Regions from separate parts of the Homo sapiens genome. Here all the other regions are linked to region 3. The links come from fine-mapping of genetic effects on gene expression. A gene starts in region 3. Each other region holds a variant in brackets. All regions are shown on one strand. Distances are from middle to middle. Region 1 overlaps TMPRSS6 (transmembrane serine protease 6). Region 2 has its middle 22 kb from the start of EIF3D. Region 3 holds the start of MPST (mercaptopyruvate sulfurtransferase).

What was found. PIP is the estimated chance that this variant, and not a neighbour inherited with it, causes the effect.
Region 1: its variant is fine-mapped to the expression of MPST in whole blood (INTERVAL, PIP above 0.99).
Region 2: its variant is fine-mapped to the expression of MPST in spinal cord (GTEx, PIP above 0.99).

What each region holds. Positions count from the first base shown.
Region 1 is chr22:37,090,955-37,099,130 of GRCh38, forward strand. TMPRSS6 (transmembrane serine protease 6) reads right to left here. Exons shown (of 18, transcript NM_001374504.1): 3 at 7,462-7,595; 4 at 5,694-5,761; 5 at 4,952-5,136; 6 at 4,597-4,638. Among named protein-coding and RNA genes, the nearest start is that of TMPRSS6, 15 kb to the right of the region's middle. RefSeq lists an enhancer at 7,017-7,522. The variant T/TGATA (reference allele first, on the strand shown) is at 3,589.
Region 2 is chr22:36,547,363-36,555,538 of GRCh38, forward strand. No RefSeq gene overlaps it. Among named protein-coding and RNA genes, the nearest start is that of EIF3D, 22 kb to the left of the region's middle. The variant C/T (reference allele first, on the strand shown) is at 4,626.
Region 3 is chr22:37,016,175-37,024,323 of GRCh38, forward strand. It overlaps MPST (mercaptopyruvate sulfurtransferase), which reads left to right and starts at 3,568. Exons shown (of 3, transcript NM_021126.8): 1 at 3,568-3,698; 2 at 8,018-8,149. The coding sequence starts at 3,663. TST (thiosulfate sulfurtransferase) reads right to left here and starts at 3,273. Exons shown (of 3, transcript NM_003312.6): 1 at 3,226-3,273; 2 at 1,964-2,579. The coding sequence starts at 2,558. RefSeq lists enhancers at 1,816-2,791, 2,820-3,321 and silencers at 2,795-2,854, 3,015-3,404, 3,435-3,554, 3,565-3,884.

The sequences.
Region 1 (8,176 bases), 75 kb after region 3:
CTGCCTCACTTCACAACTGTTTCACCATCATACCCCACCCCCCTACCCCACACACCAGTGAGTCTCTGCTCTTCCATCTAATCCGTAAGCTCTGATGCACTGCTAGAACTTACAAAGCAGTACCACCTGCATCATTCATTCATTCATTCATTCATTCAAAACAGTGACTGTGCACCGACTGTGTGTTCGATCTAGGCACCAGGGTCTGCCAGTGAACATGTTCTCTCCCGTGGAGCATCCAGTATCTCATTTAAACCTCGCCAGAAGCCTGGTGTTCTTCCAGGAGCCAGTGGGGATTTAGGAATGAACCTGGGATGTGGGAGGCAGCCTGGTGACATGAAATTATAAAACCTGAGTTTTCAGTCTGTTTTCTCTGCTTTAAATCGTCTTCTTTGGAAGGCCACAGGCAAGCAAAAGTCCCCCTGTCAGCTTGGTCAGCCTGAGGGCAGGCCCCCCAGGCTAGTGCCATCTGCTGGGCCCCCAGGGGAGGGGGTATATGGGGAGGGAACTGGAGAGAAGGAGGGAGGGGCACTACCCTCCCCACCTAGCACCAACACTCATCAGCTGTGTGATGATGTCATTCTTGGCTCATGGGCCATACAAAATCAGGCAGCAGTGGACCAGATTCGGTGTCCAGGCTGCAGTGAGCCAGTCTCTGTCCCCAATCATTGTCTGATTAAGTCCCCCTGAGGCTCTCAGGAGTAATAACTCTGACTTACTATTGGTTGCAGATTATCAACCTCAGACTCTGTAGAGGTAGATGTTCACTACCTCTGGGTAGTTAACTGAGTCTGGGCCAGTGGCTTAGCCATTCCAAGTTCTGTCAAATGGATGTAATAATAATCCCTGTCCTATGACCTCCTCTGGGCAGTGCTGAGGACCAGGAAGGGAATGGAGGTGAATACACTTTGCTCTGATGCTGCCACCTGTGGCTCAGCCCCTTCTCCCTGACCCCTGGCCATGCTGACTGCAGTGGGGAGCTGACCTCCCCAGAGAGAGAACAACAATGTCTGCCTAGGGAAGGGACAGGGCCTCCACCAGCAGCTGGGGAAAGATGGCTGGCTCTTCCTAGGGTTTTGTGTTCTTTAAATCTTGCTCCAAGCAGATTCTTTGCTCTTGCCACTTTAATAATTACCCTTTTTTTTTTTTTTGAGACGAATTCCGTGGAGAGGTGTGTGCTAACCTCTTGTTAATCAGAAACACCTTCAGGGAGCCTGGCACCTCTCGGGGCTGGGAGGAATTAACTGAACACGCCTTGGGTGTTCCCCTCCCCCAGCCTTTGCCCCTGCCATTCCCTCTGCTCAGGGAACCCTTTCTTCTTCTCGCCCTGACAAATTCCTGCCTACCCCCATGCCTGAATTTCTTTTTCTTTTGAAAATTATTTTATTTTATTGTTGAGACAGCCTGTCACTCAGGCTGGAGCGCAGTGATGCGATCACAACAGCTCATTGCAGCCTCGACCTCCTGAGCTCGGGTGATCCTCCCACCTTAGCCCCCCACCCCCACCCCCGAGTAGCTAGGACTACAGGTGCACACCACCATGTCCAGCTAATTTTTTTTTTAATGGAATTTGCTCTTGCTGCCCAGGCTGGAGTGCAATGGTGCAATCTTGGCTCACTGCAACCTCCACCTCCTGGGTTCAAGCAATTCTCCTGCCTCAGCCTCCCAAGTAGCTGGGATTACAGGCATGGGCCACCATGACCAGCTAATTTTGTATTTTCAGTAGAGATGGGGTTTTGCCATGTTGGCCAGGCTGGCCTCGAACTCCTGACCTCAGGTGATCCGCTCAACTTGGCCTCCCAAAGTGCTGGGATTACAGGCTTGTGCCACCACGCCCGGCCCATGCCCAAATCTGATGCCCCCTCCATGAAGTCTTCCAGGATCCCCCAGTCAGGAGCAACCCCTCCCTCCTGTAGATCTGGGACTCTGTGTGAGGCTCTTGATTTGCCCCCTCTTCTGCTTTGGAACGAACAATTCCCTCTCTCCACTGCCTCTGGGGCCTCTATTCTCACACTGGCACCTGGTGTTATGAGAATCTGTTTATGTGTCTGTCTCCCTCATGGGGCTTAAAGCTCCTCCGAGGGCAGGGGTGAGGACACGGTCATCCTGGTGTCCTCAGCGCAGGAATGGGGCCTGGCATGAAGGAAGTGCTCATAAAGTCGACTTCAAGGATTTGAGTTGTTATCTCTGCCCCCTGAGACTCTGTGCTCTGGACATGCACTGAACCAGTCTCCTCATTCATGCTTTCATTCATTTGTTCAATCATTCATTCATGAAACGAACACCCACTGAGCACAGATAATTACAGAACAACTGCCAGGAACATGGGGACACAGAGGCACGAGGCAACATGAGGCTATTACATAGCACTTCTATTGCAGGAGAAAAAATAACTTTCCATAGGACCTTTTCCTTTCCTTTCTTTCTTTCTTTTTTTTTTTTTTTTTTTTTTTTTTTTGAGATGGAGTCTCACTCTGTCGCCCAGGCTGGAGTACAGTGGCACAACCTCACAATCTCAGCTCACTGCAAGCTCCATCTTCCGGGTTCAAGTGATTCTCCTGCCTCAGCCTCCTGACTGGTTAGGACTACAGGTGCGCACCACCATGCCCGGCTAATTTTTATATTTTTAGAAGAGACGGGGTTTCGCCTTCTTGGCCAGGCTGGTCTCAAACTCCTGACCTCAGGTGATCTGCCTGCCTCTGCCTCCCAAAGTGCTGGGTTACAGGCATGAGCCACCATGCCTGGCTGACTTTTATATTTTTTAATAATTGAAAAATGGCCTATGGAGCCAGGCGTGGTGGCTCACACCTGTAATCCCAGCACTTTGGGAGGTGGAGGCAGGTGGATCACCTGAGGTCAGGAGCTCGAGACCAGCCTGGCCAACACGGCAAAACCTCATCTCTTCTAAAAATATACAAATTAGCCAGGCATGGTGGCAGGCACCTGTAGTCCCAGCTACTCAGGAGGCTGAAGCAGGAGAATTGCTTGAACCTGGGAGGTGGAGGTTGCAATGAGCCAAGATCGCGGCACTGCACTCCAGCCTGGATGACAGAGTGAGACTCTGTTATATATATATATATGTCATTCTTGGCTCATGGGCTATACAAAATCAGGCAGCAATTGACCAGATTCGGTGTCCAGGCTGCAATGAGCCAGTCTCTGTCTCCAAGCATCATCTGATTAAGTCCCCCTGAGGCTCTCAGGAGTAATATCTCTGACTTACTATTGGTTGTAGATTATCAACCTCAGACTCTGTAGAGGTAGATGTTAACTTTCAGAAGACTGTAATAAGCTGTCAATGATTTTAATTCACTAGAAAAGACAACTCCAAAGGTTTGAGTTTTCTTGCCTGGTAGGACCTTAACCAGGTTTGTATCTAACTTGGTAATCTTATTCTAGCAATTCTCTTTTTCCATTAATGATTGATGATAGATAGATAGATAGATAGATAGATAGATAGATAGATAGATAGATATAAACAGACAGCTAGCTAGCTAGACAGACAGAGACAGAGAGACAGACAGATAGATAATAGACAGCTAGCTAGTTAGATAACTAGATAGACAAGCAGACAGATATCAACAGAGA[T/TGATA]GATAGATAGATAGATAGATAGATAGACAAATAGATCAGTTTCTTGCATTCTTTACCATTCTACTCGTTCCCCCATTAATCAGCCAAATAAATATTTGACACATGGTCACTCTATCTTTGTATGAGAATCATGATTTCACCTCTTTGAAAACTGTACTTTGACCTCATCACCTCCATCCAACAAAGAAGCAAGCATTTGACCAGCAGGATGGGAAGACGGGAAGGTAAGGAAAGGTATAACAAGGATTTAAACTCTGCCTCCCTCCCTGAGAAGGGGTTGAGACGCTCACCCCCACCTTGGCTCTGGGTGACAACACTAGATAGTGTGGGAGGAATCTGAGAATTTAGGGGCCATAGAGTCCAGCAGCCAGTTGGTGCACTGCACAACTCACACAAACTACAACTTGGACAGCACCTCCTGCCTTGTGCAGCGTGGTGACTGTGCTGGTCAGCTGAAAGATTGTGGGTCCGCTTGGAGAAATGCAAGGTGACTCTAGCAATACGGCACCAGGTAGGGAGGGAGGGCTGATGAGCCTGACTGGGAAGGAAAGGAAAAGAGGGAAGGAGCGTTCTTGAATGCAATGGCACCGCTACCTCCAAAAGACCAAGTTTTAAAACCAACGTGACTGACAAACCGTGAATTGGCAAGATGATTTTCTACCATCAGTGGAAACTAGCTTGTGGGCAGGTTGAAGTGAATGATAGAGGAGAGTCACGTTCGTGGACCACTAAACCTGACTCATCCTCACACCCACACAGGAACGCATGCACACCCGTCTACAAGACACACACAAATACACGCATGCACGTCGCCACCTCCTCTCCCCCTACAGGCTCCAAGACTTGCTTGGGACACATCGCTGAGTCCACCATGGCATCCCCTGGGTGACTCTTGGCCAGGGCTCCCTGCACACACAACAGAAGCCATGTGTCCCCCTGATACACAACAAAGTCAAGACAAATGCCAACTCAAAAGGAAAATGGGGAGGGGAAAAAAAAATAGCGTACCCAGCGTGGAATTCAATGCAGCTATGTCTTTCACACTGGCTTCTGATAAAAGGAAATGAACAAACAAATAAACAAGAACAAAAAAAAAAAAAAAGAAAAGAAAATACAATGAAAATAAAATTAGAGGAGACCCTTGGAGCCAGCCTTGTCTGAGATTTACCCTAAATGCCCCCATCCCACCCTTCTTTCCTGGCTCCTTGAATGCAATGGCACTGCTACCTCACCTGGGGGGCTCTCCTGGGGGGCCCACCCTGACAGCACCCCAGGCCTGGCAGGCAGCCTCCCCGGGCCACACCACAGCTTGTTTCCCCCAACCTCATGAGGCCAACCCCACGTTTCCACTCGCAGTACTGACCCAGGATCACTAGGCCCTCGGGGTCCACTTCGTACTCGGCCCTGTAGGGGACGGCAGCCGAGCTGTTGACTGTGGACAGCAGCTCCTCCACCAGCAGTGCCTGCACCACCTCGGGGCTCAGCATCAGCCGGCGGTGCTCGGGGATTTGGAGAATGAACCAGAAGAAGCAGGTGAGGGGTCCCTCCCTAAGGCAGGCAGAAGTGAGAGAGGCCAGGGAAGGATTCTGAGGTCTGGCCCCAGCTCCACCCCTGCTCATGCACATCGAGCACTTTCCGCACCTCAGCCATTGCTGTCCGTCTTCACGCAGAAGCCTCCTAGCGACCTCTGAAGGAGGCGCTCTCATAATCCTTATTTTACGAATGAGAAAACTGAGGCATGAGAGGTGAACTTGTGTCTCATAAACTATGCCGCAAGTAGCAGAACCAGATGTGGACGGGGCAGTCGGGCCCTGGAGCCAATGCTTTTAACCCCATGCCCCTCCAACATCGCCTCGCCTGATGGTGTCAGGCCCTTGATCAGCCATCACAGTCATTGTCTGGTGCAAACCTATCACACCCATGTTTCCATTCTACAGATGAGCCCAGTGAAGGGAGGGTGACATGCAGGAAGCCAAGTTCCCTCTCTATGCCTTAGTTTCCCCATTTGAAACATGAAGGCATTGCATCAGAAGCCTACAGAGGCCCCTCCCATTCTTTGAATCTCAGCTTCTTGCAGGAGCTGGTCAGGGGCAAGGACAACTCACCCAAAGGAATAGACGGAGCTGGAGTTGTAGTAAGTTCCCAGGCGGGTGCTGGTGATGAGCTCCTTGAGCTGTGAGAAGGGAAGACAACAGCCCCTGGGACCCTCTGCAGGGCAGACAGGCCCACTTCCTACCTGGAGGTGCCCTTTGCTCCTACTGGCAGCCCCGCTCCATGCATGATTCTCCAAGGTGGACAGGCTTGATCACGGTCACACAGTGCTGAGTGGCCGGGCCGGGGCATGCATGAATCTCACACCCCATCCCCTTCTTTCTGTTTCCACTACACCCGACTCTCACCTCCACCTGCACTGCTGATGACCCCTCTGCCCCTTGCCAAAAGTCACTCCTCAACTCTGAGAAACCCCACTCGGCTCCTGGGTCCCCTCTGCACCTCCTCCCATGGCCTGGGACAAGCCAGCAGCTCTGATGGGTAGTTTTTGCGCATCTCCAACTACAGCGCTGCTGGCAGGATTACAGGCTCTTAAGCATTTGCGCAGCGTGGGAATAGTGTTCGTGTTATCTCAACTTCACTGCAACCCACAACAAATCTGCAGCCGGGTCCTGTTGTTATCACCCCTACCTCATGGAGGAGGAAACGGGCAGCCTCAGGCTGGGTCCCTCAGAAGCAGACCCTCCATTGACAAGGTGGGGCAAGTGGTTTATTTGGAGGTGATTCTGGGAAACAGTAGTTGGGAGGGAGAGACTGGAAAGTGGGCAACCAACACAGGGCCATGAATGCGCAGTGTAGAGCTGAGAGCATCTGAGCTCAGCCGAATAGGGCATCTCTGGGAGACAGCCTGGAACATTCTGTGAACTATTCCCCCTGCCAGGGCCAAAGAAGCTGCGGTATTGATCCACCCACTCCAGCGCTCATGGTTCAGGGTTGCTCCTGGGAATAACTCCCCGGCACTTCTGGCCTGCCTTGCTGGGCAGTGGTCCTGCAGCCTGAGAGTGGCAGGCAGTAGACCAGCCTCCGTGCAGTGAGCCACCATCCTGTAACAGAGGGGCAGGAGTGGCCACCGTCCTGTAACGGAGGGGCAGGAGCGGGCCACCGTCTTGTAACAGAGGGGCAGGAGCGGGCCACCGTCCTGTAACGGAGGGGCAGGAGCGGCCACTGTCCTGTAACGGAGGGGCAGGAGTGGGCCACCGTCCTGTAACGGAGGGGCAGGAGCGGCCACCGTCCTGTAACGGAGGGGGAAGAGCGGGCCACCGTCCTGTAACGGAGGGGGAGGAGAGGGCCACCGTCCTGTTACGGAGGGGGAGGAGAGGGCCACCGTCCTGTAACGGAGGGGGAGGAGAGGGCCACCGTCCTGTAACGGAGGGGGAGGAGCGGGCCACCGTCCTGTAACGGAGGGGCAGGAGCGGCCACCGTCCTGTAACGGAGGGGCAGGAGCGGCCACCGTCCTGTAACGGAGGGGGAGGAGCGGGCCACCGTCCTGTAACGGAGGGGGAGGAGCGGGCCACCGTCCTGTAACGGAGGGGCAGGAGCGGGCCCTCAATAGTGTCAGCTGCACTGTGGGACCTTTCCCAAGGTCATGCTCCACCCCTGGTAAGAGGCATGATCAGGATCTAATCCGAGTGCTATTGACCCAAACATCCACTAACTTTCCCATGACCCTCAACCTCATCTGCTTCCATGGTGCCTGGAGCAGGGCTGTGGTCCCTGTGAATGCTCCAGATGGGTTGACCAACTGGCTCCATGTGATCAGACCCCACCCCTCTCTTTTCACCCCCATATTCCCTCCCTCTCATCCCCCAGATCCTTTCCTACCATCTTCTGGGCTTTGGCGGTTTCACTGCGGAAGGCACTAGATTCCCGGCGGGTAAGATCCTGGGAGAAGTGGCGATTGAGTACACGCAGACTGCCTGAGTACACCTGGCTGACCATCACCTCCGCCTTGTACCCTGCCCAGGAAGGAACCAGCAGGGTTAGTGGAGGAAGCAGGTGGGAAAGTCTCCTGTCTCTTCCATGCCTTCTCCTGCCACCCACACCCTCAGCTCAGCCTCAGTGTCTTGGGTCTCCATGGCACCATCAATGTCATCATCATCATCTTTGTCACTCCCATTGTCATCATGGTCATCTAAAGTTTATTGGATGACAAACTGGCTGCAAGGTACCAGGGAGGTGAAAGGCTCCCAGATGGATGGTGTCCTACAGGTTCCCAGGGAGAGGCTGACACAGTGACCAGTCCAGGACACCAATGACATGAAGGCCAGGAAATCCACATAGGCCCAGGAGGCCAAGGTCATGGGTCAGCACCACTAGGCATCCTTCCACTCGTGAGGTCACCCAGGGATCCCACAGTGTGTGCTAACCACCTACTACATGGGGTACGCCAGTTAACCAAGACAGATGTGCCTCCCCTTGTGAAGCTGACAGTGGTGGGTAAGAAAGGCGTGGCTCTGGCAACCACACAGCATGTGGCATCTGTCTGTGGGCAGTGCCATCAGGGAGCAGTGCCACATGGTGCTGTTGAGGGGATGTG
Region 2 (8,176 bases), 470 kb before region 3:
AGTGCCACGGGGTAACCAAGTCTAGTGGCACAGTGTGAAGGCTACAAGAGGGGGAGATGTTTTGCAGGATTTGAAGGATGAAATGAATTTGCAGATAACCAGACAAAGAAAGGTGCATGAGGACTGGGGGAAGGAAAGCATCAGGGGCAGTGGGGTATGTACGGGCAGGAGCTGTCAAAGGGCGTCAGTCATGTGTTTGAGGATGGGTAACAGATGCAGTAGGAAAGACAGTGGTACCAGCAGGGAGGGCCTTGAAAGCTATTCTGAGGACTGTGAATTGCATCTTGTATTTGTCAGGGAATCACCATGCTGGGAGCTCTGCTAGGAGCTCAGAGTTCCATGGAGAAGGTGGGCAAAGAGAGGCCCATCACTCATGTTTACTGAGCCTTGACTATTTCGTGGTGCTAAGCACTTCTTGGGCCTTGGTTTATTGTCTGTCTTATAAGGCAGGTACTGTGATCATCCCCATTTTATACACGAGTAAACTGAGACTTGGGATACTGACATAAGTTTTTCCCAAGGTCATAAAACTGGTACTAGTGGAGTCAGGACTTGTCTTTTTTGTTTTTTAATGGTCACCTTTACTAAAGCTGAAGTGTATGGGTTTTTCACGGATGGGGTACAAAATTCAAAAGGCTCAAAAAGTCCCAAGTGAGGTTGCTCTTCTTTTTTTTTTTTTTTGGGATGGATTCTCGCTCTGTTGCCCAGGCTGGAGTGTAGTGGGATGATCTTGGCTCACTGCAACCTCTGCCTCCTGGGTTCAAGCGATTCTCCTGTCTCAGCCTCCTGAGTAGCTGGGACTACAGGCACATGCCACCACGTCTGGCTAATTTTTTTGTATTTTTTAGCAGAGACAGGGTTTCACCATGTTGGTCAGGCTGGTCTTGAACTCCTGACCTCGTGATCTGCCCACCTTGGCCTCCCTCCCTCCCCAGAGGTGACTACTCTTACACTTTCTTGTGTTTTTTATTTTCTAGAGACTTTGCCTGTTTGTTTTGTGAGAGGTGTTTTATATAGACATAAGCACAAAAAGCAAGACAAGACAAGTGCCTGTTAACTACAAACATGGGCTTTGGGAAGAGCCAGTGTGGGTTTAGATCTTGACTTTTTCTGAGAGCCTGACAAGTGTCACCATTAAATGCTGGTTTGGACAAAGGGTGGGCGGGCTTGGAGGGTGGGATGAGGATGGCAGGGGGTAGGGACGTGGACATCAAGAGGTCTGTGTGCACAAGTGTGACTGTGTGGGCCTGGACTGGGGGTGAGGTGATCAGATGGGGACAGGAAATGGGGACTGCAGAGGCCTGGTGAGAGACAGAGCAGGGACGAGGCAGGGGAGAGCGGCTGCTGCGGGGCTGTCATAGCCGGCAGGCGTTTGGCAGGGCAGAAGGCACAGTAAGAGGAAGAGAGGCAGCCTGCGGGCTTGGCTTGGGACAGCCTCTCTAAGGCTCGTGCTGACTCTCGAGCAGTTCCAGCTCAGCAGGCCATGCACACGAACCAGGAAGCTGGGTGGACTGGGCTGGGAAGGAGGCCATGGGCTCAGGAGCCCGGGAGATCTGGTCCCAGTGCCCAGTGGGGATTCTGGGCAAGCCAATTCCTCTCCAGGCATCTGTGCGGGTCAGCGCCACACGGAAGCCCCTCGTCCCTGTTGATCTTCACTGTAGAGGGAGAGGCAGGGAAAGGCTTGGGAGATGCCGGGCTGGGATGGGCTAGGGGCTTGGAATGCCTGCCCAGAGGTTTTCAGGGCGGCATCTCAGCAAGTGTCCACAGTGTGCAGAGCTCTCCCAGGCAGGATGGGCACCTATACATGCATGCATATGTGTACTTTACATGTTATATGTAATACAATGTAATACATGTTATTTTGCTCGGTTCCCACTTCCCCTTTTAGAAGCCAGTTGATATATAATGAGTTGGTGTCCTCCCATTCTTTTTGATGCATTGAGGATCCTAAGTCTGTGCCCCAGTCCCCATAGTCTGTTCACTTCCTGGCTTCCTGGAAGAACAAAATGTCCCCGCCTCCTCTCGTTCTTTCCCTGCCCCACTCCTAGAATCAGCTGTTTTTCTAAGGAGCCCAGGTTTTCTTCCCTGAGAAATGCTATTTGGGTGGGGGAGAGGGAGGGAAGCAACAAGCTGTGGGGGAAGAGCCTCGATCTGGGCAACCCCTTTGCTCTTGTGACCTCGAGCAAGTCCCTCGGGGCATTAGGGGACCAGTTATGTCCTTTCTAGACTCACCTGAGGCCAAGAAGATGTGGGAAACATCCATCCTGTGTGCCTGCGGTCTGGAAAGGCACAGCCCCAGCTCTGCCCCTGTGTGGCTGTGTGATTCTGGGTTTCTTAACCTCTCTGAGCCTCAGAGTCCCCATCTGTGAGATAGGAATAACATGAGGCTTTTTTTTTTTTTTTTTTTTTTTTTTAAGACAGGGTCTTACTCTCTTGCCCAGGCTGAAGTGCAATGACATGATCATAGCTCATTGCAACCTTGAACTCCTGGGTTCAAGTGATCCTCCCGACTCAGCCTCTCAAAGTGCTAGGATTACAGGCATGAGCCACTGCATCTGGCACGTGGACATTTCTGACTTATCTCAACTAGGGAAGGTACTCAATAAATGCTAATTCCCTTCTTCCTCCCCTTAATTATTTGACTTCAGTACCCCAGGAAATGAGGACTGGGATATTGGATGGTTTGGGAGAGGAGGAAAGAGGTGTCCAGGGAAAAGGAAGAAATTGGGAAATAGAAGACCACGGACAAATAAAAGAGGAGGGGTTAATTCAGAATAGGGAAGACGGGCCAGGCGCAGGGGCTCACACCTGTAATCCCAGCACTTTGGGAAGCCGAGACAGGCGGATCACGAGGTCAGGAGTTCGAGACCAGCCTTGCCAATATGGTGAAACCCCGTCTCTACTAAAAATACAAAAATTACCTGGGCGTGGTGGCACTCAACTGTAGTCCCAGCTGCTCAGGAGGCTGAGGCAGAAGAATCGCTTGAACCTGGGAGGCGGAGGTTGCAGTGAGCTGAGATCGTGTCACTGCACTCCAGCCTGGGCAACAGAGCAAGACTCCATCTCAAAAATAAAAAAAAAGAAAAGAAAAGAATAGAGAAGATGATTTTAATCATCAGAGCTTTCCAATAAAGGCAGGCTCTGGCTGCTTGGGGGAGGTTGAGAGCCTCCTGTCATTAGAGGTATGCAAGTAGAGGCTGAGGGATTGTGAGCCACACAGATGTGTTTGTGAGGACTCGCAATGGCCAGGAGGTAGATTCCTTCACTCAGCAAACTTTGGGAGAGGGCTGTCCTTGCCTGGTCCTGTAATGGGGCAGGGAAGCCAAGGTGAATAGGACACCATCCCTGGCCCCAGGGAGCGCCCAGCCCAGGAAATAAGCAAATCGCTGAGATCCTTTTACTCTGCAGTTCTGTGCTTTGAAGCATCCAAGCCTTGGAGGGAGTTGGCTGGGGATTTTCAGTGTGCGCCTTTTGGTATTGATCCACTGAAGTTGGAGCTGGCTGGGGAATGGCAGGAGGACGCCGCAGTGTTATTAGTGCGGAGGACACGCTGTAATCTGTCAGTGTCACCCCGGTTGCAGCTGGCCAGGAACCATCCTGCTGTTAACGCCTCCCTTCCCAGCAGCCATGGAGCACACAACTTGTACAGCACCTGCCAGTGCCTCCACCTCTCCTTGTAGGAGGGAGAGTGTGGATATTTATTCTTTTTCTGCATCTCCCTAGCATGAGTCCTCGTCTCCAATCACACTAATTTATTCAGTGTTTTCCAACACACCTTGGGCATTCCTACCTCTGTACCTTCAGTTACCAGAATTCCCTACCAGCGGTGGTCACTCCTGTCCATTCATCCATCCACCTGTCCATCCATCCAATCATCCATCCATCCACCCACCTATCCATTCAATCATCCATCCATTCATCCGTCATCCATCCATCCCCCCATTCATCCATTCAATCATCCATCCATCCATTCATCCATCCACCCACCCACCTTCCATCCATTCAACTTTGCAATCCGCTTCAGTTCAATTCAATTCAATTCACCTTTATTCAACTCATAAGGTTACTGGGCTTTGCCATGTACCACACACATGTGATAAGTGAGGCATGCCTCTGCCCTCAAGGAGCCCATGGGAAGAATCCTCCCCATTCTCCATGGCCAGCTTTGCATCTCACCTCTGTTAATCCTTTGCCATGCCCTTCAGCAGAAGCAACGGACTCTGAAGGGCTGTCCTGTGAGGAGAGTTCAGTTCTGGCTTTCATGAATTGCAGAGGACAGAGCTCAGACAAGGAGAGAGGCAAAGGGTGGGGAGGAGGTGAGAGTGAGATGAGCTAGTGGGACGGGGATTTTGGCTTTGTGGAGGGAGCTGCTTCCAGTTAGCTGTGAGTACTCAGCAGTGTATTGGGGGATGAAGGGAAAGAGAAGGGGGCAAGGAAACCACTATTGGAGAAGTGGGTTAGTGTGGCGGTGAGGAGGTGAGCTCTGCAGCCAATGGACTACCTGGCTTATTGTCTCAGCTCCACCATATTCCTGCTGTGTGAACCTGGGCACATATCTTAACATCTCTGAGCCTCCATGTCCTCATTTGTAAAATGAGGATAATAAGACCTATCTCACAATGTTG[C/T]CTTTAGCATTAACACATGCAGTGCTTAAATTAATGCGTGGCACAAAGGGAGAGCTTAATAGATTCCAGCTTTGGTTGTGACTACTCCTATTACGTACCAGCTACTATGCCAGGAGCTTTCATTCCAGTGTGTCCTCTGAGCTAACCCTATGCGGGGATTATTGAACCCATTTTGCAGATGAGGAAATGAAGACCGACGGAAGCTATCTCTTGAGCTCGTCATGCAGCTGGCGAAGGGTGGAGCAGGGCTTCAAATGCAGACCTTTCCAACTCCATTGTCCCTGCTCTCCTGCGTGCCCTTTCCTGCCTTTTCTCAAGGGGTGAGTGCTCTGAGATGCAAAGATTGGAAGACTTCCATCCCAGCTTCTGCCTAGGGCACTCTTTTGGCCTTCTCTAGTTGTAGCCCTGAATTGTTAATTACTGTTTCATGTATGTTTTCTCTGCTCCCCAGAGACCATGAGATCAAGAAAAAAGATTTTCTTCTCCACGGCAACTGAAGTGTTGACTTTGACAGTGAAAGCTACAGAGTGTATGATGTTTCCCTTTTTGCCTTGCTTGCCAGGAAGCTTGTGCTTTTTGTCAAACTGCTTACTTCCCCTTTCCATGGTTTTGGTCTTCTACCTTTGACAGACTTTTATTCATAAGTCTTACTGTAAGCTGTTCTACTCATAGAATAAGCTGAATAAATAGAAATTGAATTGAATGGAAAAGGATGGGTTACAAATTACAAGTAAATAATTCATTTTATATTTAATTTAATTTATTTATTTACTTTTGAGATGGAATACTGCTGTCACCCAGGCTGGAGTGCAATGTCGTGATCTCACTGCAACCTGCGCCTCCTGAGTTTAAGTGATTCTCCCGCCTCAGCCTCCCAAGTAGCTGGGATTACAGGTGCCCATGCCTGGCTAATTTTTGTATTTTTAGTAGAGATGGGGTTTCACCATGTTGGCCAGGCTGGTCTCGAACTCCTGACCTCAGGTGATCCATCCGCCTTGGCCTCCCGAGTGCTGGGATTACAGATGTGAGCCACTGTGCCCGGCCTGCAAGTAAATAATTCAAATAAAATCACGAGCTTCAGGAAAGAAAAATGCCTTTCTTATATCGGGCCATTGCCACAGTGTTTAGCCCTGAGCCCTGGTTCTGGCTGGGTGAAGTTTGCATGGAAAGCCCAGTGGTGATTTTCCCTGTTGTGTCTGGATCAGTGGCTCTCCTTGCACCTAGAATATAACTCAAAGGCCTTCCCTTTGGATTAGAGCAGCAGTCCCCGACCTTTTTGGCACCAGGGATCAGTTTCATGGAAGACAATTTTTCCACATACTGGGTGGGAAACTGTTTCTCCTCACATCATCAGGCATTAGTTAGAGTCTCATAAGGAACAGGCAACCTAGATCTCTCTCATGCACAGTTCACAGTAGGACTCATCCTCCTGTGAGTATCTAATGCTGCCGCTGATGTGACAGGAGGTGGAGCTCAGGTGGTAATTCTCCATCACCCGCTGCTCACCTCCTGCTGTGTGGCCCTGGTCCAAGGCCCAGGGATTGGGGACCCCGGGATTAGAGGACTGACCCCTGCCCACCTCTTCCACCTTATCCTGTGTAACTTGTCCCCTTGCTCACCCAGGATAACTACTGGAGTCATCTTTGAGATGTTCTCACAAGCCAGGTTCTTTCCCTGCTTCAGAAAAGAGGCTTTGTGGCTGGGCGTGGTGGCTCACACCTGTAATCCCAGCACTTTGGGAGGCCGAGGCAGGCGAACCACCTGAGGTCAGGAGTTCGAGACCAGCCTGACCAACATAGAGAAACCCGGTCTTTACTAAAAATACAAAATTAGCTGGGAGTAGTGGCACAAGCCTGTAATACCAGCTACTCGGGGAGGCTGAGGCAGGAGAATCACTTGAACCCGGGAGGCAGAGGTGGTGGTGAGCTGAGATCATGCCATTGCTCTCCAGCCTGGGCAACAAGAGCAAAAACTACGTCTCAAAAAAAAAAAAAAAAAAGAAAAAGAGGCTTTGCATGTGCCGTTCCCTCTGCCTGGAGCCCTCTGCTCTCTCCCATCCCCTGCTTCTGCCTGGCTCATCATTCCTACGCTTCAAATTTCTGCTGAAAGTCAGCATCTTAGGGAGGCCTCCCCTGACTGCTCTGTTTAAAGGGGTTGTGGTAGCTGGTCTGCAAAGACAACTCCCAGTGCTTCCTGGCCTCTCCTGTGTATGCTGCTGTTCCCATCAAGAAACAGACTCTATTTCTCCTCCTCCTGGAAGTGGGCCGGGCGTTGGGCCTGGCTTTGGCCAATGGAATGTGGCAGAGGTAATTTACTGAGGCTTCCGAGGTGAGGCCTTCAGATGACTGGCAGCTTCTCCTTCCTGCCACCTGGAACCCAGCTGGTATGCTGTGGGAAGCCCATATCACATAGAGAGACACAGCGGGAGAAATGGGGTGTTCAGCTCAACAGCCCAGTTGAACCCCCAGCCAACAGTCAGCATGGATTCCAGCCATGTGCGTGAGCCAGCCTGGGTGCTGCAGCCCAGGTGAGCCCCTGAATGACTGCAGGCCCAGCTAACATCATACGGAACAGAAGAACCACCCAACTGAGCCCACAGAACTGTGGGAGATAATAAAATGGTATTGCTGTTTTAAGCCACTGAATTTCCAGTCATCTAAAGAGAGGTTAATCCCTGATAAATTTCTCTCTTTCTCTCTCTCTCTCTTTTTTTTTTTTTTTAGAGAGACAAGTTCTCACTACGTTGCCCAGACTGGAGTGCAGTGACTGTTCACAAGTGCAATCATAGTGCACTGCAGCCTCGAACTCCTAGTCTCAAGCATCCCTCCTGCCTCAGCCTCCTGGGTAGCTGATATTCTAAAAATCATTGCCCCAATGCACTTACTTCATAGCATTCACAATAATCTATAATTATATAATTATTTGATTCTTAACTTGCTAATTTTCCCTTTTTTCTTTTTCTTTTTCTTTTCTTTTCTTTTTTTTTTTTTTTGAGACAGTCTCGCTCTGTTGCCCAGGCTGGAGTGCAGTGGCATGGTCTTGGCTCACTGCAATCTCCACCTCTTGCATTCAAGCAATTTTCCTGCCTCAGCCTCCCGAGTAGCTGGGATTACAGGCATGCGCCATCATGCCCGGCTAATTTTTTGTATTTTTAGTAGAGATGGGGTTTCACCACGTTGGCCAGGCTGGTTTCAAACTCCTGACTTCATGATACATCTGCCTCAGCCTCCCAAAGTACTGGAATTACAGGCGTGAGCCACCGCACCTGGCCAATTTTCCCTTTCTTCCTATAGCACATGAGTTACAGAAGGCTGGGACCATGTTTGTCTTGATTGCAGCTATCCCCAGCATTAAGCACAGTGAATGGCATGTGGTGGGAGCTGAAAGAATGAAAGAATGAATGAATGAATGAATGAATGAATGCAAGGCATCGGAGTGGTCTTGAAGTGTTCCTAAGAGCCAGTGTAAGTCTCTGTGGCTGCAGCCCAGGCTGATATAGCACCAGAAAGGAGATGGGTATGGCCTAAGTCTCAGTTCTCTGGGGCTTTCAC
Region 3 (8,149 bases):
GAGCTCATGATCCGCCCACCTTGGTCTCCCAAGGTGCTGGGATTACAGGCGTGAGCCACCACGCCCGGCCGCCACTGCTACATTTAAACAAATGCATACTCATGTGGGTAGGGCTGGCGTGACTCTTCTCATTTTATGATAAGGAAACCCAGAGAGGCCAAGCAACTGGACTGAGGTCACTCCAAGGAGGAGTGGCTGAGCTGAAATGAGAATCCATGTTCCCTGATGCTCCTGAGGGAAACTGAAGGAGGTGTGAACACAATTACAGAGGAGGAACTTCAGCATCCCGGGCCTTCAGGAGGCATTACCCACTGCAGGCCATTCTCCTCCTCTGAGCCTCAGTTTCCTCATCTGTAAAATGGGTGAGGACATTGGGCCTGGCACCTCCAAGCTGTCCCTTCCACTTATTTCTTAGGTTGCTTCAGGGCAGGCTGGGAAGCAGCAAGAGAACCAATTCCACTGATCCTCCCCCATGACAGCTTAAATCCCAAGGAGAAGAGGCGTCTTGAACCAAGGCCAGGAGAGGGCTGCAGGCGTTCCCAGCCAGGATTCTCTGGGAGGTGCCAAATGAACTTGAATCTTCAACTCCAGACCTTCAGAGAGCAAGCAGGCAAGAAAAATATGGGGCCTGGAAAAAGCTGCGCTGGAAAGGGCAGAGACCCTGCTGTCCTGGCTCTGTCACTAACTAGCTATGCGGCCTTGGCCCCTGCCTCTGTGCACCTCAGTCTCCCCTCTGTCAGGTGAGGTCACCGTTCAGGCCCTCCAGCTCTAAGAGTGTGCAGAACAGTTTTCCCAGCATTCTCTCTGTAGGAGGTACAGACAGGAAGAGATGTTTTTCAACAAGTCAGGCAAAATGTTGCACACGAGTTAGATTCTGTAGAGAAGGAGCTCTGACTGAGGAAAGAGCCACCAAGGAGGTGCCCAGAGACAAGAGAGGGCCCTGCTCCTGGAAATGGCCAGGCAGGGACTGGAGGGCACTCAGCAGGAGTGATGGCAGCGAGACGGCAGTCCTGCCTCTAGAAAAGGGAAGACCTCCGAGGTTCTGTCTGGCTAGGAGGTTCTAGAACTCAGCATTTCCTCTCCTGAGGCTCTCCCCAACCCTCAAGCAGTATCCAATCCACCTGGCCTTCCCTTCCACAGGAGGGGAACTTCTGAGTCGCCTTCCTGGGGCAACTAGCAGAGGGGACTCCCTCCTGGCCCTGGGAAGTAGGGGTAGGGCAGCATTGGGTGCGTCCTGGTTTATAGCCCTGGTTTGAAACAAGGCAGCATTGGATTCGAATCCTGCCTTCCACCACTTTATGTCCTGGCATCTCAGTCCCCCCACCCCCCGCTGCCAAAACAGGGGCATTGAGCTTTGTTCGCTGAGATAATGCGGTGCCAAGTGTCTGGCATGAAATGGCAGCTGCTGTTACAACTCTGCCGACGGGCTGCAGCTGCCTGGAAAGGTTATGGAACCTTTGCAAACAGCAGGCAGGGGCCCCAGGAGAGCTAGATTTGGGGAGAGGGGGATCCTGCGGGGAGGGACACTGTTGATGTCTATAAGGGTTTCTGCGGGACGAGAGAGGCCTGGAGAAGCTGGATGTGTCCGTGGGAGGTTTCTGTACAGCAATGCAAACGCTGGCTCAGGGGCATGACACCCTTAGGTATATCCTAGTACATGTGGGGCAGCTGGTGCCTGGGAGTGGAGGTGGTGGACATGTCACCAGTGACTTCTGCTCACACAGATGCTAGGTGGCTTCTTAGCACATGGCTATGAGGACACATTCTTGGGTCCTTGTGCATCCAAGCTGAAAAAGCCTTTAGGTTTGTCTCCACTTTCTGGTTTTATCGATGGAAAGACTGAGGCCTACATGGGAGGATTGAAGGCATGGGACGGACCCTGGAGAGGGTCCCAGTCATCCTTACTCCCTATCCTTCCATGGGGCAATACTCCCCAGGGACCACCCAGCACTGGGACACCTACCTACTGCATCCGGCTCCGGCTCGGTGCCCAGGAACCGCCCTTGAGACCTTGAATCCACCAGCTGGAACCTCTTAGATTCAAGGTTCTCCAGCACCTGCTCGTAGGTCTTGAGCAGGGAGCGGTCCAGTGTGGCTTTGAAGACGGCCGGTTCTGGGCGTGAGGGCTCGGATGTCACCGGGTGGCCCTCCTTCAGCCAGTTCCGGAAGCCACCATTGAGCACTGATACGGTGCGGTGGCCAAACACACGGAACATCCACCAGACCCGGGGAGCATAGAAGCTGCCCAGGTGTTCACCATCATACACCACCACGTGCGTGTGGTTGCTGATGCCCAGGCGGCCCACATACTCGGCGAAGCCAGCCTCGCTGGGCAGCATCATCTCGTAGGGCGACGCCGTGTCCCGGCACTCTTCTATGTCAAAGAAAGAGGCGCCGGGTACGTGGCGCTCGAGGTACTCCTTGCGGGCCTCTCGGGTGCCTGGTGAGTACCAGGACGCGTCCAGCACCCGCAGGCCGGGCCCCAGCTTGCCAGTCCTGATGGACTCCGCCAGCCACTTGGTGGAGACCAGCGCCCGGTAGAGCACCTGATGAACCATGGCTTCAGCTCTGCGTGTCACCTGGCACGGGTGGGAACCAGGAAAGAGAGACAGGCGTGAGGAAGGAAGTCGGTGTGTGCAGTAGGGTGAGGCCTGGGAGAAGCTCTTTCTCCCTCCGCACTCCCCCGGGTTCCTTGTTTACAGCAAGCCAGCGAGGCTGGGGCGTGCAGCGGGATAAGTTTGCAGATTCCCTCTGGAAAGCCGGCCCCGCCCCTCCCAGCCGGCCCGGGGGCCCAGCGCAGAAGCGGGTGGGGCAAGAGTTTCCGAGGACTCCAAGTAGGGGCGCTTCCTGGGGCGGGGATCTGGCTCCTAGAAGTTACAGTACTCGATCCCGCCAGGAAAGAGCAATGAAAGCATGCCCGGGATGGGGGGCGATGGCATCTTGGGCTTAGAATCCCCTTTCCTTCCAAGGCAGAGGGGGTGGGCGCACGGCTAGGAAGCTCCGCGAGCCGCGCACACGCCATCGCCTGCGGCCTCCCCAGGCAGCCCGAGCTCGCCCGCCTCCAGAGTGCCCGAGTCCGGCCCGTAGCTCGCTGCCCTCTGCCCTAGGTGGATCAGGGGTTCCCGGGGCACCCCGTCCCACTCTCGCAACGCTATCCTTCCCCGGGCAGCAGGTGGCCCGACCGGCGGCCCAGGCGCCCGGCCGCTGCCCCCGCCCCGCACTCACTCGCCCCGGACGCCGCGCTGGCGCTCGCCCCGGCCGGCTGGAGAAGTTGGCCGGTTCAAACCCCCGGCCGCAGCTCCCCAGGCGGCGCGCACCATCGCGCCACCGCCAGAGGGGGACCCTGCGCCGCCCGCCGCCATCCCGCGCCTCCCCCGCGCGGCCGCTTCGCGCCCGGCACCTGCCAACCTCGCGCGCGGGGCCTCCGGGACCCGCGGGGGTCTGAGGGGGACGCCGGGTGGCGCGGGGGCCGCGCGGGCCTGGGCTGGGCGGAGCGGGCGTACCCCCACGGCCCGGCCAGTGGAAGGCGCGGGCAGCAGCGGCTCCGAGTGGCCGCGGCGGTGGGCTGTGCCGGAGTCTCCTCCCTTTGGTCCGCTGCAGGTTGGTGGCGGGAGGAGGGGACAGCTGCGGGCGCGGGGAGGGGGCGCCGCGCCGCGGGGGCCATGGCGGAGCCAGGAAGCCGGGAGTCCGAGACCCGGGTAACTGCCGCGGCGTGGCGGCTTGCCTTTCTGGAGGGGGAGGGAGTGGCTCTTTGGGGGTGCTCGGCGCGGGGCTCCCGCGCGGGACCTGGGCGGAAGAGGGGGCTTAGTCTAGGAGAGAAGGCGCGCCGCTACGTTGGCACTAAGGGTGACTGTCCGCTTGGGGCGGCCTGCCGGGTGGGGTCGTGGCGAGTGGCGGGTGGGGAGCCTTGGGTGGAAGTGGGTGACCTGGTGGCACCAGAGAGGGCGGGGGAGAGAGAGGAGGACAGGGAGACGAGACCCCGCTGACCCAGAGGCCCCAGGAAGAGACACTAGCCAATAACTTGTTAGTGAGTGAAAGGAACTAACATTGTCCAGCCCTGCTTGGTGTGGCACTTTGCTGGGTACTCCCGTGGTGTGACTTAATTCCCACAATAACCCTGAGGAGTAGGCCAGAAACTTACTAAGACAGGAGAGAGCGGCAGAGCGAGTTGCTGGAGGACACACCCAGAGTTGAGGCCGGGCCTGATCCCTGGTCTGAAGCCCACGTGGTACCAGCTGCCTTTGTTTACCTGGCTCTTCCCTGAAGGTTCATGCTTTTTAAAAAATTGCCTGTTTTGAACTTAGCCCGTTTAATCATAAGTTGATGTAATTCAATTTTTAATAATAGCTGTATTTAACAACCAGTTGGCAAAATTCCTGAAAAGCTCGCCATGGGCTCTTGCAAACTGGGGGACACCATTGCCCCTCCCTAGCTTTTGCAGAGGCCAGCCTGGAAGCTTTCCCTGTTTCCCAACCCTGACCTTTTGTTTTGTTTTGTTTTTTGAGACAGGCTGTGGTTCTGTGGCCCAGACTGGAGTGCAGTGGCGCCATCTCAGCTCACTGCAACCTCCGCCTCCCAGGCTCAAGCGATCCTCCCACCTTAGCCTCCCAAGTAGGTGGGACCACAGGCATGTGCCACCATTCCCGGCTAATTTTTAAATTTTTGGTAGAGATGGGGTTTCACCATGTTGTCCAGGCTGGTCTTGAACTCCTGGGCTCAAGTGATCTGCCCATCTCAGCCTCCCAAAGTGCTGAGATTACAGGCATGAGCCACCATCCCTGGCCTCATCCCTCTTTTTAAAAAAAGGTTTTGTTCTAAAATGCTCACAGCAATCCTCAAAGCCTAGTGTCTGGTGGTTGGGGGAGGGGGTGGGCAGGAGGGACCAGGCTGGGGAGGTCCAAGAGGAGCTCCCAAGCTCTGCTCCTCAAGGGGTACCCTGGATCCAGCCTGCGGCTCACGCTTGCTTCAGTGCAGCTGTGTATCCTTCTGACATGAGCCTGGGGCGGTTACGTCCTGGGGTCCTCCACTCCCAGGGCACCCTCACCTACAGTGATCCCGGCTTCTGAATCACACAGGCACCTGGTTTCTACCCCTCCCTGACACCCACAGCCTGCCTTCACACCCTCCTTTATGGCCCACAGACCTTTGTGAGAAGTGCCAATCAAGCAGGGAGACTGGGGCAGGGTGACCTCAGATCTCTGAAGTCCCACCAAGCCCTGAAATTCTAAGATTTTAGATTTGCTGCTGGCAGTTCCAGGGCCACCAATGAGAGTAATGGAAGAAATAATGCAATATTATTATTATTATTATTATTTTGAGATGGAGTCTCACTCTGTTGCCCAGGCTGGAGTGCAGTGGCGCGATCTCGGCTCACTGTAACCTCTGCCTCCCAGGTTCAAGCGATTCTCCTGCCTCAGCCTCCCGGGTAGCTGGGACTACAGGCTCATGCCACCATGCCCAGCTAATTTTTGTATTTTTAGTAGAGATGAGGTTTCACCATGTTAGTCAGGCTGGTCTTGAACTCTTGACCTCGTTATCCGCCCGCCTTGGCCTCCCGAAGTGCTGGGATTGCAGGTGTGAGCCACCACGCCCGACCTAAACCGTTTTTAATGATTATTAAAACCAGCCAGATGTAATGCATGGTGGTTGCCCCTCTACATTTATTGTTTAATCTTGGCTCTAAGAGGTGGAGGTGAGAAGCTCCATTATAAGGAACAGAAACCACCCAGAGACCCTACACACCCACATCACACAACCAGTTAAGCAGTGGAGTGGGGTTTACATTGATTTGGGGGGCTCTCTGGCTCCTAAACCAGGGCTCTTTCTACTGTAAATGGATGATTGGGTGAGGGAAACAAGGATCCTCAAGAATAGGGGACAGTGTTTGGGGGTGCACAGGGGCTGCTGTGGTTCCCACAATAGGGTTCCTCAGGAAGGAACCTGCAGCATCTGCCAGCACAGCGCCCCCTAGCTGTGCTGTAACGCAGATAATGGGGATCACCCCTTAGCCAAACACCCCTTGGCAGCCTCCCTACCCTAAAGACCGTGCTGAGGCTTCCTGGGCCCCTGGAAAAGTCAGATTAGTCTGGACTTCCTCCTACTCCAGGAAGCCTTCCCACCTCTTCTGCTGCCACCCCAGGCAAACATAGGGGCCCTCTGTGCTCAACACTGAATTCTAAACTATCCTCAATTTCACTCTCTCTTGCCTGCAGCCTGACGTTTCCCCCCAGGGCTTGGCAAAGGCAAGAGTGCCTCGGTGTCCGGCACAAGGCCTGACCGCATGGGTGAAGTAGGTTCCTAAAAGCCAGCTGCGGCCAGACTGTGGGGGTGGGCACAGGGTGTCACCCTAGAACTCATTAGGCCCTGGTCATCATGGCACCTGGGGCAGGGGAAGTCCAGCCTGAGGGGTCAAATTCTGGCTGCAAATCCTGAGGCTGCCTCCTGTGACCACGGGCAAGGCACTTATTCTTCTAATTGCCAGTGGCCTCATTCATAAAGCAGGCGTCCTAATACCCGCCCAAGGCTGCGGTGCCTAGCATGTGACCTGGCCCACAGAGGCACTCGGTCCACAGATGTTGTTCTCTACCTGCCCCCTTCATTTCGCTGGCAGGACTGCATGCAGTGGGTGTCAAGGTTGGGCCTCACACAGGGGATAAGTGAGGGCTGATCTGCAGCCCATACTCCACACACCCAGCCATGTGCCCTGGTGGGGGCTCAGCCTCTGCCTGGCAGAAGGGGCCCTTTCCTCTCACCTGCACAACGGTGGCTTCCCAGCACAAAGGGCTTAAAGTGTTTGGGAAGTTTACACCCAGGAAGGCTGTGGGCTGGCCTGGCATAGTGGGCTGGCGAGCTGGTGCACTGTCTCTGGTATGCAGGAAAGATAGAGAGGAGAGGGAGGGAGGTGCGAAGTCACTGTTGCTGCTGCTAGAAGGGCCAGAGAGAGCCCAGGCTGGACAGGCAAAACCTGGCCTCGCCAGACTCCTGGAGCCTGCACAGAGTGTGTGTCTGAGAAGTCCGGATTCTGGTGCCAGACTGACTGCCTAGTGAGAAGCCTGGCACCGCCGGGTCAGGCTAGTGCACTTTTTCTTGTTTGTTTTTTGTTTTTGAGACAGAGTTTTGCTCTTGTTCCCCAGGCTGGATTGCAATGGCACGATCTCGGCTCACTGCAACCTCCGCCTCCTGGGTTCAAGCAGTTCTCCTGCCTCAGCCTCCCGAGTAGCTGGGATTACAGGTGCCCTCCACTAAGCCCGGCTAATTTTTTGTATTTTTGGTAGAGACGGGGTTTCACCATGTTGGCCAGACTGGTTTCAAACTTCTGACCTCAGGTGATCCACCTGCCTGGGCCTCCCAAAGTGCTGGGATTACAAGCGTGAGCCACCGCACCAGGCCAGGTTAGTGCACTTCTGTGAGCCTGAGTGTCCTCCTTGAAACGGTGACAATAATATACCAGGCCTCTTAAGATCACTCATTCAACACATACTGGAGAGTCTACTGTGTCAGGCATTGTTCTAGGATATTGTTAGGATTCAGTGGTACCCAGCAAGGACTCAGTAAATTCCAGCTACTGTTCCTATTAGGTCGCCAATATAAATGCTTGATGAGTGAATGAATGACTTCCGTCTGGGACTTGGTTGCAAATAAAGCCGAGCTGCATCTTAGGGAGGGGTGGAGACTTTGCCCCTGTTTGTGCCTTGAAGCCAGCAGGGCCTTGCCCTAGGATACCTCCACCCACCCTCCTGCCCAGCAAGTGGAGGTGAGGGGCGTGGCCTGGGGCTCTCCGGGAGGTCATGGTCATTGGGTCACTCGGAGCTTGTGTTTATATGAGGCCTGGCAGAGGGAGGCCCCTGGCTACCCACCTTTGTGCCCGGGTTCACCACCACTGGTTTCTGCGTTCCCTGGACTCTGCCCTGCACGGGCCGCACCTCCCCCGCCGGCCCTCGCCCATGCTCCAGCCCCAGCCCTAGCCCCAACAGCGGCCTCTCCCTGCTTCCCTTCTGACATCCTCCCTGTCGCCCAGGCCCGCAGCCCGAGTGTCGCCGCCATGGCTTCGCCGCAGCTCTGCCGCGCGCTGGTGTCGGCGCAATGGGTGGCGGAGGCGCTGCGGGCCCCGCGCGCTGGGCAGCCTCTGCAGCTGCTGGACGCCTCCTGG